Linked DNA regions of Homo sapiens. The protein of the gene in region 2 interacts with the protein of the main gene of each other region in a biochemical or structural test. Each region holds a gene or a part of one and is shown on either strand. Other genes may lie near its edges.

What was found.
Region 1: the proteins of RFC4 (region 2) and RFC1 form a complex in vitro, tested with the Homo sapiens proteins (one study listed by BioGRID).

The regions. Positions count from the first base shown.
Region 1 is NC_000004.12:39,362,962-39,371,000, reverse strand, and holds the start of RFC1 (replication factor C subunit 1), read left to right. Parts: upstream 1-4,638; 5' UTR 4,639-4,759; coding exon 4,760-4,762; intron 4,763-8,039. UniProt on the Homo sapiens protein: Subunit of the replication factor C (RFC) complex which acts during elongation of primed DNA templates by DNA polymerases delta and epsilon, and is necessary for ATP-dependent loading of proliferating cell nuclear antigen (PCNA) onto primed DNA.
Region 2 is NC_000003.12:186,796,030-186,803,546, forward strand, and holds part of RFC4 (replication factor C subunit 4), read right to left. Parts: intron 5,167-7,517; coding exon 5,088-5,166; intron 1,586-5,087; coding exon 1,506-1,585; intron 1-1,505. UniProt on the Homo sapiens protein: Subunit of the replication factor C (RFC) complex which acts during elongation of primed DNA templates by DNA polymerases delta and epsilon, and is necessary for ATP-dependent loading of proliferating cell nuclear antigen (PCNA) onto primed DNA.

The DNA of each region.
Region 1 (8,039 bases), on a different chromosome or scaffold from region 2:
CTCAAAAATAGGATTTTGTTTTCCACTGCATTTTCAGGCTGCAAATTTTCCAAACTTTTATGCTCTGCTTCCCATTTGAAACTGAATGCCTTTAACAGCACCGAAGTCAACTCTTGAATGCTTTGCTCCTTAGAAATTTCTTCCACCATATACCCTAAATCATCTCTCTCAAGTTCAAAGTTCCACAGATCTCTAGGGCAGGGGCAAAGTGCTGCAAGTCTCTGCTAAAACATAACAAGAGTCATCTTTGCTCCAGTTCCCAACAAGTTCCTCATCTCCATCTGAGACCACCTCAGCCTGGACCTTATTGTTCATATCACTATCAGCATTTTTGTCAAAGCCATTCAAAAAGTCTCTAGGAAGTTCCAAATTTTCCTACATTTTCCTATCTTCTTCTGAGCCCTCCAAACTGTTCCAACCTCTGCCTGTTACCCAGTTCCCAAGTTGCTTCCACATTTTCGAGTATCTTTTTAGCAATGCCCCACTCTGCTGGTATTAATTTACTGTATTAGTCCATTTTCACGCTGCTGATAAAGACATACCCAAGACTGGGCAATTTACAAAATAAAGACATTTATTGGACTTACGGTTCCACATGGCTGGGGAGGCCTCATAATCATAGTGTAAGGCAAGGAGGAGCAAGTCACATCTTATGTGGATGGCAGCAGGCAAAGAGAGAGCTTGTGCAGAGAAACTCCCGTTTTTAAAACCATCAGATCTCATGAGACCCATTCACTATCATGAGAACAGCATAGGAAAGATGCACCATCATGATTCAATTATCTCCTATCCCACTGGGTCCCTCCCACAACAATGGGAATTATGGGAGCTAGAAGATGAGTTTTGGGTGGGGACACAGAGCCAAACCATATCAGTATATAAGACTGGGCCAGGTGCAGTGGCTCACACCTGTAATCCTACCACTTTGGGAGGCCGAGGTGGGTGGATCATTTGAGGTCAGGAGTTAGAGACCAGCTTGACCAACATGATGAAACCCTGTCTTTACTAAAAGTACAAAAATTAGCCAGGCATGGTGGTGGATGCCTGTAATCCCAGCTACTTGGAAGGCTGAAGCAGGAGAATTGCTTGAACCTGGCAGGCAGAGGTTGCAGTGAGCTGAGATTTCGCCAATGTATCCCAGCCTGGGTGACAGAGCAAGCCTCCATCTCAAAAAAAAAAAAAAAAAAAAGTATACAAGACTGATCTGTAGTGTTGTATGATGTATGATCTGTATTTCATTGATTTTTATTGTTGTATGAATATATTTCAATTTATCCATTTTCTTTACAGTTAACATTCAGATTGTTTACAGTGGTTTTTGTTTTGTTTTGTTTTTGGGACAGCATCTTGCTCTGTCGCCCAGGCTGGTCTTGAACTCCTGGCCTCGAACTCCTGGTCTCAAGCAATACTCCTTCCTTGTCCTCCCAAAGTGTTGGGATTACAGGCATGAGCCACTGTGCCTGGCCTTCTGCGGTTTTTTGATTATTCTCTGCTTTGTGGTATACAGATATTGCTGAAAATGTCGAAAAGGCCTGCAGATACCCCTTTGGGTAACAGTGATAAGAAAAAGAGGAAGCATTTATGTTTATCTGTGGCACAGAAAGTCAACCTTAGAGAAGTTGGACAGCAGTATAAGTGTGAAAATCTTACAAAAGAGTATGGGATTGGAATGACCACCATATATGATTTGAAGAAACAGAAGGAAAAACTGTTGAAGGTTTATGCTGAAAGTGATGAACAGAAGTTAATGAAAAGTAAAAAAACAAAACCAAAAAAACCCTCCCAGCACTTTGGGAGGCCGAGATGGGTAGATCACGAGGTCAGGAGTTCGAGACCAGCCTCACCAAGATGGTGAAACCCCGTCTCTACTAAGAATACAAAAAATAGCCAAATGTGGTGGTGCACAACTGTAATCTCAGCTACTCAGGAGGCTGAGGCAGAAGAATCGCTTGAACCTGGGAGGCGGAGGTTGCAGTGAGCCGAGATGGCGCCACTGCACTCCAGCCTGGGTGACAGAGCAAGACTCCGTCTCAAAAACAAAAAACAAAACAACCCCCCCCCCAAAAAAAACTACGTAAAGCTAAAAAAGAAAATCTCAATCATGTATTGAAAGCATAAATTCATAAGCATCATAGTGAACACATGCCACGTGATGGTATGCTGATCATGAAACAAAGATCTATTGCAATGAACTAAAAATTGAAGGGAATTGTGCATATTCAACTGGCTGGTTGCATAAATTTAAGAAAAGACAGGGTGTTACATTTTTAAAAAATCTGTGGCAATAAAGCATCTGCTGATCACAAAGCAGTGGAGAAATGTGTTGATGAATTTGCCAATATTTTCACTCATGAAAATCTGACACTAGACCAAGTCTACAAGATTGCTGAAACATCACTGTTTTGGTGTTATTTGCCCCAGATAGATACTAACTATGGCTGATGAGCTAGCCCATAAAGGAATTAAGGATGGGAAGGATGGAATAACAGTGCCGGCATGTGCTAATGCAGCAGGCATCCATAAATGTAAACTTGCTGTGATAGGCAAAAGCTTATATCCATACTGTTTTCAAGGAGTGAATTTCTTTCCATGCCATTATTCTGCTAACAAAAAGGCATGGATCAGCAGGGAAATCTTTTCTGATTGGTTTCACTTTTTTTTTGTTTTTGTTTTTTTTTCCTGAGACAAGGCCTCTCAAAGTGCTGGGATTATAGGCATGTGCCACCATGCTCAGTCCTATTTTGGGTCTTCAAAAATATTTCCATTCTGGATATCTATTCCTTTATAAGAAACCACTCCAATACTTATTACCTTAACAGAGCAATCATTTAATTATGTTCACGCTACTGTGGGTCAGGAAATTTGGACAGGCCTTGACTGAGTGATTTTTCTGCTCTCCCAGGTGTTGAATGGGGTCAACAAAGCTAGTGAAATTCCATCAGTTGCTGGATGGGATCTGAGATGGCTTCATTTACATGCATGGTGCCTGGTGGAGATGGCTATAAGGCTGGTCTCAGATGACCACCTCCCTGGCTTTACATGGTGCTCCAAGAGAGCAAGACAGGAGCTGCCAGTCTTCTTAAAGCTTAGGTCTGGAGTTGGCATAGTATCACTTCCATTGTATTCTTTGATCAAATCAGTCATAGGCCAGTCCAGGTTCAAGGGAGGAGTTTCAAAGCATATGCAGTCATTTTAGATCTGGTATATTTCTGAGATAGAGTATTTTCATGTAAATAAATATTCCTAAAGAAAACAATCTCACAAAGAAGTTACAGTCTCCTGACTTAAGTCTCATTTAAACTCAAGGAAGGCTTCAAATGCCAAAAAAAAAAAAAAGCAAAAGTTAAGAGGAATGTAATATAAAAGACACGTACAACTTTTTATGTCTTATTTACTCATTTATTGATTTATAACACAATGAACATTATAAATTGGTGTAGGTCCTCTAAAATTATGGGCAAAAATTTGTGTGATATGTCTGCTAAGACAAAACCGAGGCACAGTAACTTGCCCTTGGTCACATAAATAGCAGGTGGTGGGGCTGGAGACCTAGCATCCTGGCTTCAGAGGGAACAGTGCAGTGAGGCCCTGTTAATAAGTAACAGTCTGTCTGTAAATTCGGGATAAGAGTAGTCAGTGTCATCATGGGGATAAAATGAGCTAGGCTAGTCCAGAGCTGCACGTACAACAATAGGCGTTTAATAAATACAAGCTGTCAATGCTCAGCCTCTGTTGTATTCCAGGCTGTTCTATCTTTCGCCATAGAAATGTTGGTGTCATAAAGCGCAAGACCCAACAGGGGGTGGATGGGTGAGAATTTCAAAAGTGTAGCTAGAGCCAAAGCTGGAGATACTGCTTTCTCCATTGAACTCTTTATGGTCTAATCTTTCTCTTGAAATCGTACGCAAATGTTTCATTGTATTCCGTGATTCAATTGCTAATCTATTCATATACAACTGGTTTACCCCAAAGCTTTCGGTATCTTTTCTTTTTTTTGAGGCGGAGTTTCGCTCTGTCGCCCAGGCTAAAGGGCAGTAGCTCGATCTCGGCTCACTGCACCACTGCCTCCTGGGTTCAAGCAATTCTCCTGTCTCAGTCTCCCGAGTAGCTGGGACTACAGGCACACGTCACCACCCCCTGGCTAATTTTTGTATTTTTAGTAGAGACGGGGTTTCACCACATTGGTCAGGTGGTCTCGAACTCCTGACCTCAGGTGACCCACCCGCCTCGGCCTCCCAAAGTGCTGGGATTAGAGGGGTGAGCCACCGCGTCCGGCCTCTTGATGAAACCTTATTACAGAATAGATATTTATACATAATATGTAAAACGCACAGCTAAAACATTTATCTTACTAAAGTTGGTAGTAAAAACTTTTCAAAGTTACTATAGGGAAGTGCATTGTCCAGACGTGTAACCGGGAGGTACTTGGGTACCCCGCCTGCCAAGGAAACCAATATCGGATCCCCCTACTTTAGCGCCCCCGCCAAAAACCGAGCTCACACCAAAGCACCGTGGTTCCTCTCGATGTCAGCGGCCCGCCTGCCCTCGGGGCAGCACCTGGGCAGGCGTCGCACCTCCCGCCTCTGGGCGGGACGGAAGCAAAGCTCGCGCCTCCTGACGTCATCACCGCGCGCCACTGTCTTCGCCTTCTTGCACTTCGCGGGAGAAGTTGTTGGCGCGAATGGATCCTGAGCCTCGATAACAGATTCCTCAACCGGCCCACCCGCCAGCCAGCCAGCGCCTTCATCCTGGGGCTGCGATGGTGAGCCGCTGGGGGAGGCCGTGCGGCTCGGGGTCTGGGGGGGCTTTGCAGGCCTGGTGTGGACCGGGCACTCCTGGTATGCAGGGTGGGGGAGGATGGCGGTGGGTGGTTCCGGAGGCTAGCAAAGGCAGAGAAGGGGCCGCACACCGGGCACTGGACGCAAAACTTTCATTGCATCGCGGGCTCTGGCTCTGGGCGGCAGCCAGCGCGCAGGGATTTTGTTGCTACGTGTACTTGCACTTTCCCCCCGCCCCCCACTCTTGGGGGAAGGGAGAAAGGAAGAGAGGAAGGATGGTGGTTTTGGGACGCATTGGTAAAGTTATTTTCTTGTTCGGCGTTGCCCGAACCTCAGTTTGAGTACTGCCTAAAGCGTGGATTTCAAGCTTTGGGTCACGAGGGAGAAGAATGTAACAAACTTTTCTTTCTTAGGGAATATGTTGTGTAGGGCCTTAAACTTTTATCATTAACAGCTCAGCTCGTCTCATCTCCGCTCGTCATTAACGATCACCTGAGCGGTGTTGAGACCGAGGGCATGGAGAGGATATTTTATTTTGTTTAGATGAGTTCATAGGAGTCAAAAGGATAACATGGCTTACTAGGAAAAAGAAGTACAGCGAATAGAAACAGATGCAAGACATTTGACAGCTGTCATCCTCTTACCACCTGATGTTTAAAATCTGAAAAAAACCCAAGCCTCACTGCATAATTCTGGATAAAATGTTCAAACAAATTGAAAGTGAAATGATTATGCAGCCAGCAAAGCAGACATTCCTGATGGTATGGCAATGGATATGGCTCTGTGTTTGAAATATTTTTAAAGGACCATTTAAAATGTTCATTAAGCTAGAAGATACTTAACAATCCGATATAATTTTTTTCAATCATTGGTCAACGTGTCACAGTGACAACATTCTGGGGGGGGGCGGTGAAAATTTTATGCCACACTGGGAAACGTTGCAGGCCTTTGTGTTTCTTCTCAAAAAAGGGCAACAGTAATGATAGTAGCTACCTTGTACCAAGCATCTTCTTTAGGTCAATATGTGAACTGTTGGTTTTCCATGGTTTTTTTTTTTTTTTTTTTTTTTCATTTCAACCCACATCGATGCAGTTTTACAGATGGTGCAAGCACCTTTTTGGAATTTAAACAGTGTATCATATAACTAGTAGGTGGTTGAACTAGAATTAGAATCTTGGTGTTTCTGACCACCATGTTATACTACTTCCCTATAATGATCATCATTACATTTTGGAGGCCAAAGCACTGTGGTATTTTGGAAGCTTGAGACTTGGAGTCTTGAAGATGAAGAACGTGGTAATATTTTAGTTTAATGGTTTATATATTAATTTATAGTTATATTACTATGTTAGTATAGTCTAGTTTAATAGTTACGTGGTCTTGGGCAAGTAAATAGCTTAAGTTTAATCTCTTTAAGCCTCTGTTTCCTTATCTGTAAAAGAGGGGAAAATAATAGCTGCCATAGTGATTGTTTTGGGGATTAAGCAAGATGTATAGGTAAAGCTTCCGTTCTGGTTCTGGTGCCTGGCATGTTAGGCAACTACACAGCTACCAGTGATCTATTTTCTCAGAAAGGACTCTATGGAAAGTTACATAGATTTTAAGAGGCATGGTAGATTCCTCTGTCATTTATGGTGAACATAGCTTGTGTGGTCAACTTTTGATCATTCAGGTGCTTTTACTTTTGGTTCTTTTCTTTCTTTAGTACTCCTGTTCATGGTGCAGATAAAAAATAGACCTCTTCTCAGAAAAGAAATAGGTCAAATTGGTCAGTTTTGTTGTTAGTGGGTAAACATCCTATGAGGTAGATAAGAATTTTGTATTATACTGATATTTAATTTAGCCCTCCAGTCTCTAGTGCAACAATTAGCAAAACCCTAGACTAAAATTGATTCAACAAATGTTTATTGAACACTTGTGCAAAGTTATAAGACAGTAGTTCTTTTTTTTTTTTTTCCCTCAGACTGTGTCGTTGGGTATGAAGGACAGTAGTTCTCAATCTTTGTTTCAGTTACAGTTTCCTTTGATAAATACAGTGAATGATATGCAAATTTTCTGCCCAGAGAAATGCATATGGGCATATACACACCATTTTAAGGGATTGACCTATCTTCTTCTTCTTTTTTTTTTTTTTTTTTTTTTAAAGGCAAGGTCTTGCTCTGTTGCCCAGGCTGGAGTGCAGTGGTGTGATGATAGCTCACTGCCATCTCTAATTCCGGGGTACAAGCGATCCTTCCACCCTGGCCTCCCAAAGCATTGAGATTACAGGCATGAGCCACTGTGCCTGGCCTGTTCACTTATCATCTTCTTCTTCTTCTTCTTTTTTTTTTTTTTTTGAGAGTCTTGCTGTTTTGCCCAGGCTGGAGTGCAGTGTGCAGTCTTGGCTCACTGCAACCTCTGCCTACCAGGTTTAAGCGATTCTTGTGCCTCAGCCTGCCTGGTAGCTGGGAATACAGGTGTGTGCCACCATGTCCAGCTATTTTATTTTTTTATTTTTAGTAGAGATGAAGTTTCACCATGTTGGCCAGGCTGGTCTTGAACTCCTGGCCTCAAGTTGATCCACCTGCCTCAGCCTCTTAAAGTGCCGGGATTACAGGCATGAACCACTGTGCCTGGCCTATTCACTTATCTTCTGAAGCCCATCCATAGACAGCTCTTGCCCTGGGAGCTGCATTGAAAACAAAAATTCCAATTAAAAGTTATCAATAAAGAAATAAAGTACGTGTATTCACACAATGGAATACTGTGCAACCTTTATAAAAATGAGAAAACTTTATACTCTGATATGAAACAATTGCCAAAATATAAAATTTCTCTGGAAAGATACAGAAGGAACCAACTGATAACATTTGTTGCCTCCAGAGATGGGAAATATGTGTCTGAGAGGCAGGATAAGAGGGGGACTTTTTACCCTTTCGAAATTTGAACCACGTAAATAAATAGAAAGAAAATTAAAAATAAAAGAAATAAAGAAGCCATGTAGACAATTTGAATTTCACTGAGATTTAATTGTTTGCACAAAACGTGAATAAAACCTGAGAGATGCCATTTTTAAGAAGTCAGCATATATAATTAATTGGTTGGTATAATTATTGAAAATATGCATAAGATTGAATTAAACACACATGAGACTTAAGGAACAGCTGTTTGAAGAGCCGTGAGGTCAGTTTAAATAAATTGTGGTCTGAACTGTTTCATTGCTCCACTCCTACAGGCAGGCAACTTTCACATCATGGTTTACTATGTGGAATGCTCTCCCTG
Region 2 (7,517 bases):
CACACACACACACACACACACACACATTTAAATAAAAAACAAGAGTTGTGATTTAGTTTCATCTCTATTTTTCCTAATCAGCATGGTATCCTAAGCATGTTTATGGACATAAACATTTACATGCATCTATTTTCTATTTTAAAGCCACAATATTAAATATGAAATTCACTGTTAAAGTAAGTTCTTTAAAGACAAACATTATTTCATAAAGGATATAGAAAAAGTTGTATAATCTGGACTGACCTACTCTAAGTAATAATAAACAACTGTTAAGGCTGATTCAGATTGGTTCTATCTGATTGAGTTGTGGAATAATCAAAAAAGTTCTTCTATAATTTTACTGAGAATAAAAAATTGCTGTCAAATAAAATATTAGGCACATAGCAGCTTCTCCCTTTGTCTTTTACATTTTGACATAACTAATAATCCTTACACATTTGGTGATTTCAGTGGCGTCTTTTTTTTTTTGAGACGGAGTCTCGCTCTGTCACCCAGGCTGGAGTGCAGTGGCGTGATCTCGGCTCACTGCAACCTCTGCCTCCCAGGTTCAAGTGATTCTCCTGCCTCAGCCTGCCGAGTAGCTGGGACTACAGGTGCATGCCACCATGCCTGGCAAATTTTTGTATTTTTAGTAGAGATGGGGTTTCACCATGTTGGCCAGGCTGGTTTCGAACTCCTCACCCCAGGTGATCCACCTGCCTCGGCCTCCCAAAGTGCTGGGATTACAGATGTGAGCCACCACACCCAGCCTATTTTCATATGTAGGATTTCAGATATTTCTATCAGTTGTATGTCTGATATTAATTCTGGATAAACTCAAAACAGCCTTTGTTATGTTGGTGCATGTTTCATGTATATCAGACCCAGCCCACTACACATCTTTTAACTCTAGGTAAAGGGCTCCTCTAGAATGGCTGGTTAAGCCAAGATGGTCAATCTAGGAAGAGGAACATAAGAAGGTGACTCACAGGAAGATTTTCTGGTGTACCTGGAATCACACTACATCAACCATCACTTGTGCTCAGGAGACCTGAGGCAAGGAGCTGGACTGGCCACTCCAGAGTCAGAGCCTAGGAAGTCCAGAGCAGGACTCAAGAATGGATGGTGCAAATAGTGCCATCAGAAACAGCAGATTCTATCATGTAGCCACACAGATGTGAACACAATCATTAAGAGGGTGATAAAACTATCAGCACAACTGGACATTAAGTTGGGCCCTCTGGACTCCAAAGTTATAATGGAAAATTTAAAGAAAGTGATGGAAAAAATCATAGGCTCCCCACACTTGAACAAGATTCACAATGAAGGTCACAAAAGACGCAGGCAAGCTGATTTCTTCAGGGGAGTGAGGGAGGAACAAAATGGCTCATGGGATTTTTAAAAATCAGAAATAGAAAACTATCCTACAGAAAACGAAACGCAAATTTTTAGAGGAAAAAAAGCAATATCAGAGAATTTTGGTGTCAAATCTTTAAAAAAAGAAAAACAGACTGATTTCAACGTACCCAAAGAGTTCTCTAGCTGCTGCCAAAATAGTGGATGTTTTTCCAGTTCCAGGTGGTCCGTAAAACAAGAGATTAGGAAGCTGTAGAAATTAAATTTTATTTTTAATAAATGGTATTCTGGCACAAATAGATGAAAAGGAAGATCGAAAAAAATGTCTGTGGAATAGTGCAATGACTTCTCTAATAGGGCACGTAATTTCTAAGTATAAAGTTTTCTTAATATAACTGATATCATAGTACTGACAGATTTAAATCCTGCTTTTTCATATACTACCACTTTTTTCCCCAAGTGTCTTTTTAATCTCTTAAGCTGAACCAATATTTATGCTTGCTCTATAGCTAATCCACTTAGGTGAAATTTTCAAAGCTGGAATGAGAAACCTTTTATTTCTAAAGGGAATCTCAGTTTCCTATCCCACCTCTATGCTCAAGATTAGGTAAGATTTTATATTACACAAAATGTCAGCTGCTTCAAAGGGGAAGCAGACCAAAAGAGTAATGGGATTTGGCCAAAACTGAGGAAAAAGGACTAAAAAAGACATAATTAGGGCTTTGGATGAGCAGAAGTACCAAGAACAGAAATATTAACAAAAAATCCAAAACTAGATATATATTAAGTACTAGGCACTGCTCCACATCATGATTATGCACTCTGTAAGGATGCTTGCATGTATCAGGGAGAATTCATTAGAAGAGGAAAGGATAAAATTAAATCACTAGCTACCTTCTTTTATACCTTGTATCTAGCTAGTTTGGCTCCTATCAAGCAGTCGACTGATCCGTGGTGAAAATTAATAAGTCAACTAAATTCTAATGAGCTCTGTTATGATACTGTGCAATCTTCAGTATGTCCTGTCACATAAGGAAATCAGTGTACACAGGAAACTAGGCATTAGAGTTTGTTTCCACTCTTGCCTAACCCTCCCTCTTCCTGTCCATTCATTCTTCACCTAAATCAGATACCACTCTGCTTGCTACTTAAAACTATTCCACTTAGAAAAACAAAAACAAACCAAAAAACCCTCAGCTTTTTACCATGGCCTAAAGGACTTCCATGATCTGCCTACCACCTCCTTCACCTTCCAGGCTCTAGCTTACAATGGCTTCTAACAGCTTGGCACTTTCTGGCCCGAACATATGTTGCTCCCATGACCTGGAGTCTGATCCTCTTCTTTCTGCCTGGCCAACTCCTAATGCATTACAAATCAGAAACCATTCAGTCTAAAGTAGGTCTCCTCTCCTATTCTCTCATTAGTGTTTGTTGCATTTTGCATTGGTTTATTGTTATTTCACTGTGGGGCTTAATTGTAAAATGCCTGTCTACTTCATTAAAAGACCAAGAACCTTATTTGTTCTATTCACATCTGTATTCTAGCATCTACTACAGTAGTCAATGTTGGCCAAATGAATGAATAAACCAATACATAGACAAATATGTTAATTAGAAGACTATTACTGTTACATTCATAACATATAGCTTACAGAACAAACTATGAGATTCATAACTTAAAAACCTCCCAGGCTTCTTAGTAATTAAGGTCTACAACTATTATTTTGATCTGTGCATCCCTTAACAATGTAACGATTCATCCAGGTTAACTATCAGATACAATAATTTAAATTCTTTGAAACAGGGTAAAATTATTAAACCTTAATTATACACTAGTCTAATATATGTAGTACATTCAAGAACTGTATGTGGAATACCAGTTCTTAAAATCAATTTCTGAAAAAATTATCTTCTTATAATTCTTTAAAACCTTTCAAAATAAATTGAATGAATTGTTTTCCTTTACTCTTTTGAATTAAAAAAACTATTTCACCTCTTTACAAAACTTAGTCTGAAAAGGTGCACAAAATATTAAACTGAAGTTCTTACTTCAGCCTCATAAATTACGTGGCATAAAGTCAAGAACTAGATCTTAGGCTGGGCATGATGGCTCATGCCTGTAATCCCAGCATTTTAGGTGGCCAAAGCGGGCAGGTCACTTGACATGGCTAAACACCATCTCTACTAAAAATACAAAAATGAGCTGTGTGTGGTGGTGCATGCCTGTAGTCCCAGCTACTTGGGAGGCTGAGGTGGGAGGATCACTTGAGCCTGGGAGGCGGAGGTTGCAGTGAGCTGGTATCACGCCACTGCACTCCAGCCTGCGTGACAGAGCAAGACTCTGTCTCAATTACAAAAAAAAACAAAAAAACAAAAGAACTGGATCTTAATCTCACTACATTTGCTGAAGATACTAGTAATTAAATTAGATATTGTCCTGCAATCTGTGTAATTACTATGCAACTGCAATTAAAATGGTATATACTGTTACCAAGATATGCAAGCAGAATATACCAAAAAATAAAATGCTATACTATTATAAAATTAAAAGGTATAAGAGTATTTGTGTTATTTATTTTTTATTACTTATTTATTTATTTATTTTTGAGACCAGAGTCTCACTCTGTCACCCAGGCTGGAGTACAGTGGCACAATCTTGGCTCACTGCAACCCCTCCGCCTCCCAGGTTCAAATGATTCTCCCGCTTTAGCCTCCTGAGTAGCTGGGACTACAGGTGTGTGCCACCACGCCTGGCTACTTTTTCTAATTTTTGGTAGAGATGGGGTTTCACCATGTTGGCCAGGCTGGTCTTGAACTCCTGACCTCAAGTGATCTTCCCATCTCAGCCTCCCGAAACGCTAGGATTACAGGCGTGAGCCACTGTGGCCGGCCAAAAAGGTATAAGAGTATGCGAGTCAAATCAAAACACATACTGGTAAAGAAAAAGATTCTAAATAGTTTTATAAATTTAACTTCTTTCAAAATGTGTACTGTAGTAATATAATTTCAGCAAGGGAATGATGGCAGCAAAACCCAAAAGAACTTCTAATTAAAAGCAGCCAGATTGAGAGGAAGGAAGCAAATCTTGAAACTAAAGCAAAAACCACATCCCACTTCAGCACTTTACTGAGCTGTTAAAGCACTTTGGGCATTCATCATAACACAACTTTAAGTTGCTAATTTTTCACATGGGTTTATCTTATCTCAGAATAATTTACAATGCAAGTTATCCATGGATACTTTATCCCCCAGATCACAGCAGAAGAGAGAGCTATAAGCAGAATTCAAAGCTCGATTTTTTTTTTGTATTATAGGTCAATCCAAATCCTAAAGTTAGTAAGCAATTATACTTTAGAGGAATCTCTGGCTCTTCTTTATAGCACATATTACTACCTATAATTATTTATTGGTTTACTTGTTTATTCTATCTTTCCTTACCAATAAAAACCCATGAAAAAAGGGGCATAGTTTGTCTTGTTCTATGTTTTATGTCTTGTTCTATGTCTATGTTTCATAGTTTGTCTTAATTACTATGACTTTTACTTGAATACTAGGTAACACTGCTATGTAAGATTAAATAGGAGATGCTCAATAAATATTTGAACTAATTATCATTGTACAAATAGTTATCAAGGACCTACTGTACACAGAGCAAGATATTTAACGAGGGCTAGAAGTTATAAAGGAAGAAAGAGGGTGAATAAATTAAGTCTTAAATATCCCAATGACATTAAACACCATTTGCAACTCACATCTGCTCCTTCTAAAGATTTTTTCAGCACTGCAACCACTTCTTCCTGGAAAGCAACTTCATCCACACATTTTGGGCGACTTGCGGGGTGAGAAGGAGGAAAGAGGTTATTTAGTATATTATAGTAGCCACAGAAAACTCTCAAGTGTTCCTTCTACTAAAATACCAATGACCATTCTTAAACATCAGCAATGAAATGAGAAACTTTTTCATAATCGGAAATAGGTGGAAACCCCACTTGTTTTTACCGTAACCAAACACATTCTGAAAGAGTGAAATAATGTTTTACTTCCTTTCTGCATTGCTCGAATCTGTTATACCCACAAAAATTAAAGAAAAAGGATTTTATTTTATATGCTACAAACACTAATTAGAAATTAAAGTGGGGGATTAAGACCATCCTGGCTAACACAGTGAAACCCCGTCTCTACTAAAAACACAAAAAATTAGCCAGGCGTGGTGGTGAGCGCCTGTAGTCCCAGCTACTTGGGAGGCTGAGGCAGGAGAACGGCACGAACCTGGGAGGCAGAGCTTGCAGTGAGCTGAGATCGCACCACTGCACTCCAGCCTGGGTGACAGAGGGAGACTCTGTCTCAAAAAAAAAAAAAAAAAAAAAGAAATTAAAGTGGGGCTGGGTGCGATGGCTCACACTAATCCCAACACTTAGGGAGGCTGAAGCAGGTGGATCACCTGAGGTCAGGAGTTCAAGACCAGCCTGACCAACACGGAGAAACACTGTCTCTACTAAAAATATAAAATTAGCCGGGCATGGTGGTGCATGCCTGTAATGCCAGCTACTCGGGAGGCTGAGGAAGGAGAAGCGCTTGAACCCTGGAGGCAGAGGTTGTGGTGAGCCGAGATCGTATCATTGCACTCCAACCTGGGTCACAAGAGCGAAACTTTATCTCAAAAAAAAAAAAAAAAAAAAAATTAAAGTGAACACCTGCTTAGAAAGCATTATTATTGGCCGGATGCGGTGGCTCACGCCTGTAATCCCAGCACTTTGGGAGGCAGATCACCTGAGATCAGGAGTTTGAGACCAGCCTGGTCAACATGGTGAAACCCCGTCTGTATTAAAAATACAAAAAAAATTAGGTGGGCGTGGTGGCACATGCCTGTAGTCCCATTTGAACCCAGGAGGCAGAAGTTGCAGTGAGCCAAGATCGCACCACTGCACTTCAGCCTGGGCGACAGAGCAAGACTCTGTCTCAAAAGAAAAAAAAAAAGCATTGTTCCACTTTGACAAAATAAGATCATGAATCTTAAGATGAAAAGGGAAAACCATTTAGTAACCTTAGTATAGGTAACTATTTTGGTTAATGTAGTTACATATATACTTAGTATGTGTTAACTGGTTAATGCCAATTTTTTCCATCATCTAACTGCATAAAAAAATGAAGACCTATTCAATTCATTGAGGGCTAACAAAAACAACAAGCTGAACCAATATGAAGTATCATATATAATTTTCATCTTACAACAGTGATTTTTAAGAGAAGCTAGAACAAAGTTACACTTCCAACTCTAAGCTTAGGCTTTGTGCTTAGTTAACTAATCAAAAGTTCTTTGATCCATACTTTTCGATAAATCAGGTTAACACTAGGTAGGAATTATGATTTTTTTTTTTAATGTCTTCTCTTGGGAATCCAGTATATGTTATAAAGCAGGGACTCATATTCAAATACCTGCAGAGATTAAGCAGATAACAAGAGTGAGGAAGGCAGAGTGTGATGCAAGATATAGTAGGGACCATGGCAAATTGAGGAACACACGACCTTTCCAAAAGGAGAAGCAGTACACAAGTCCATATAACTCCTGTCATGTGAGAACCTGCCCCCAGTGTTGCCTGATCTCCTGAGAAGCTGAAAATCCAGACCCTCCTCCACATAATTAAAAAAATCTAGATTTTCATGAGGTTTATTGGTGCCAAACAAAACATATAAGGGGCTGGGCGCAGTGACTCACGCCTGTAATCCCAGCACTTTGGGAGGCCAAGGCAGGCAGATCACCTGAGATCAGGAGTTGAAGACCAGCCTGGTCAACACGATGAAACCTTGTCTCTATTAAAAATACAAAAATTAGCTGAGTGTGGTGGGGCATGTCTGTAATCCCAGCTACTCGGGAGGCTGAGGCAGGAGAATCACTTGAACCTGGGAGGCAGAGGTTGCAGTGAGCTGACATTGCGCCACTGCACTCCAGCCTGGGTGACAAAGTGAGAATCTGTCCCAAAAAAACAAACAAACAAAAAGGCAAGCAAAAAACAAAAACACAAAAAACATATGAGGGCCTTACTCGGCCTATAAGTAATCTGTAAACATTGGTAATTACCGAGGCTACATTCAACCAATAGTTACAATTACTTGTGGTAATATCACTTAGATGACTGACAATTTTATTTATTTATTTGAGACAGAGTCTCGTTCTGTCACCC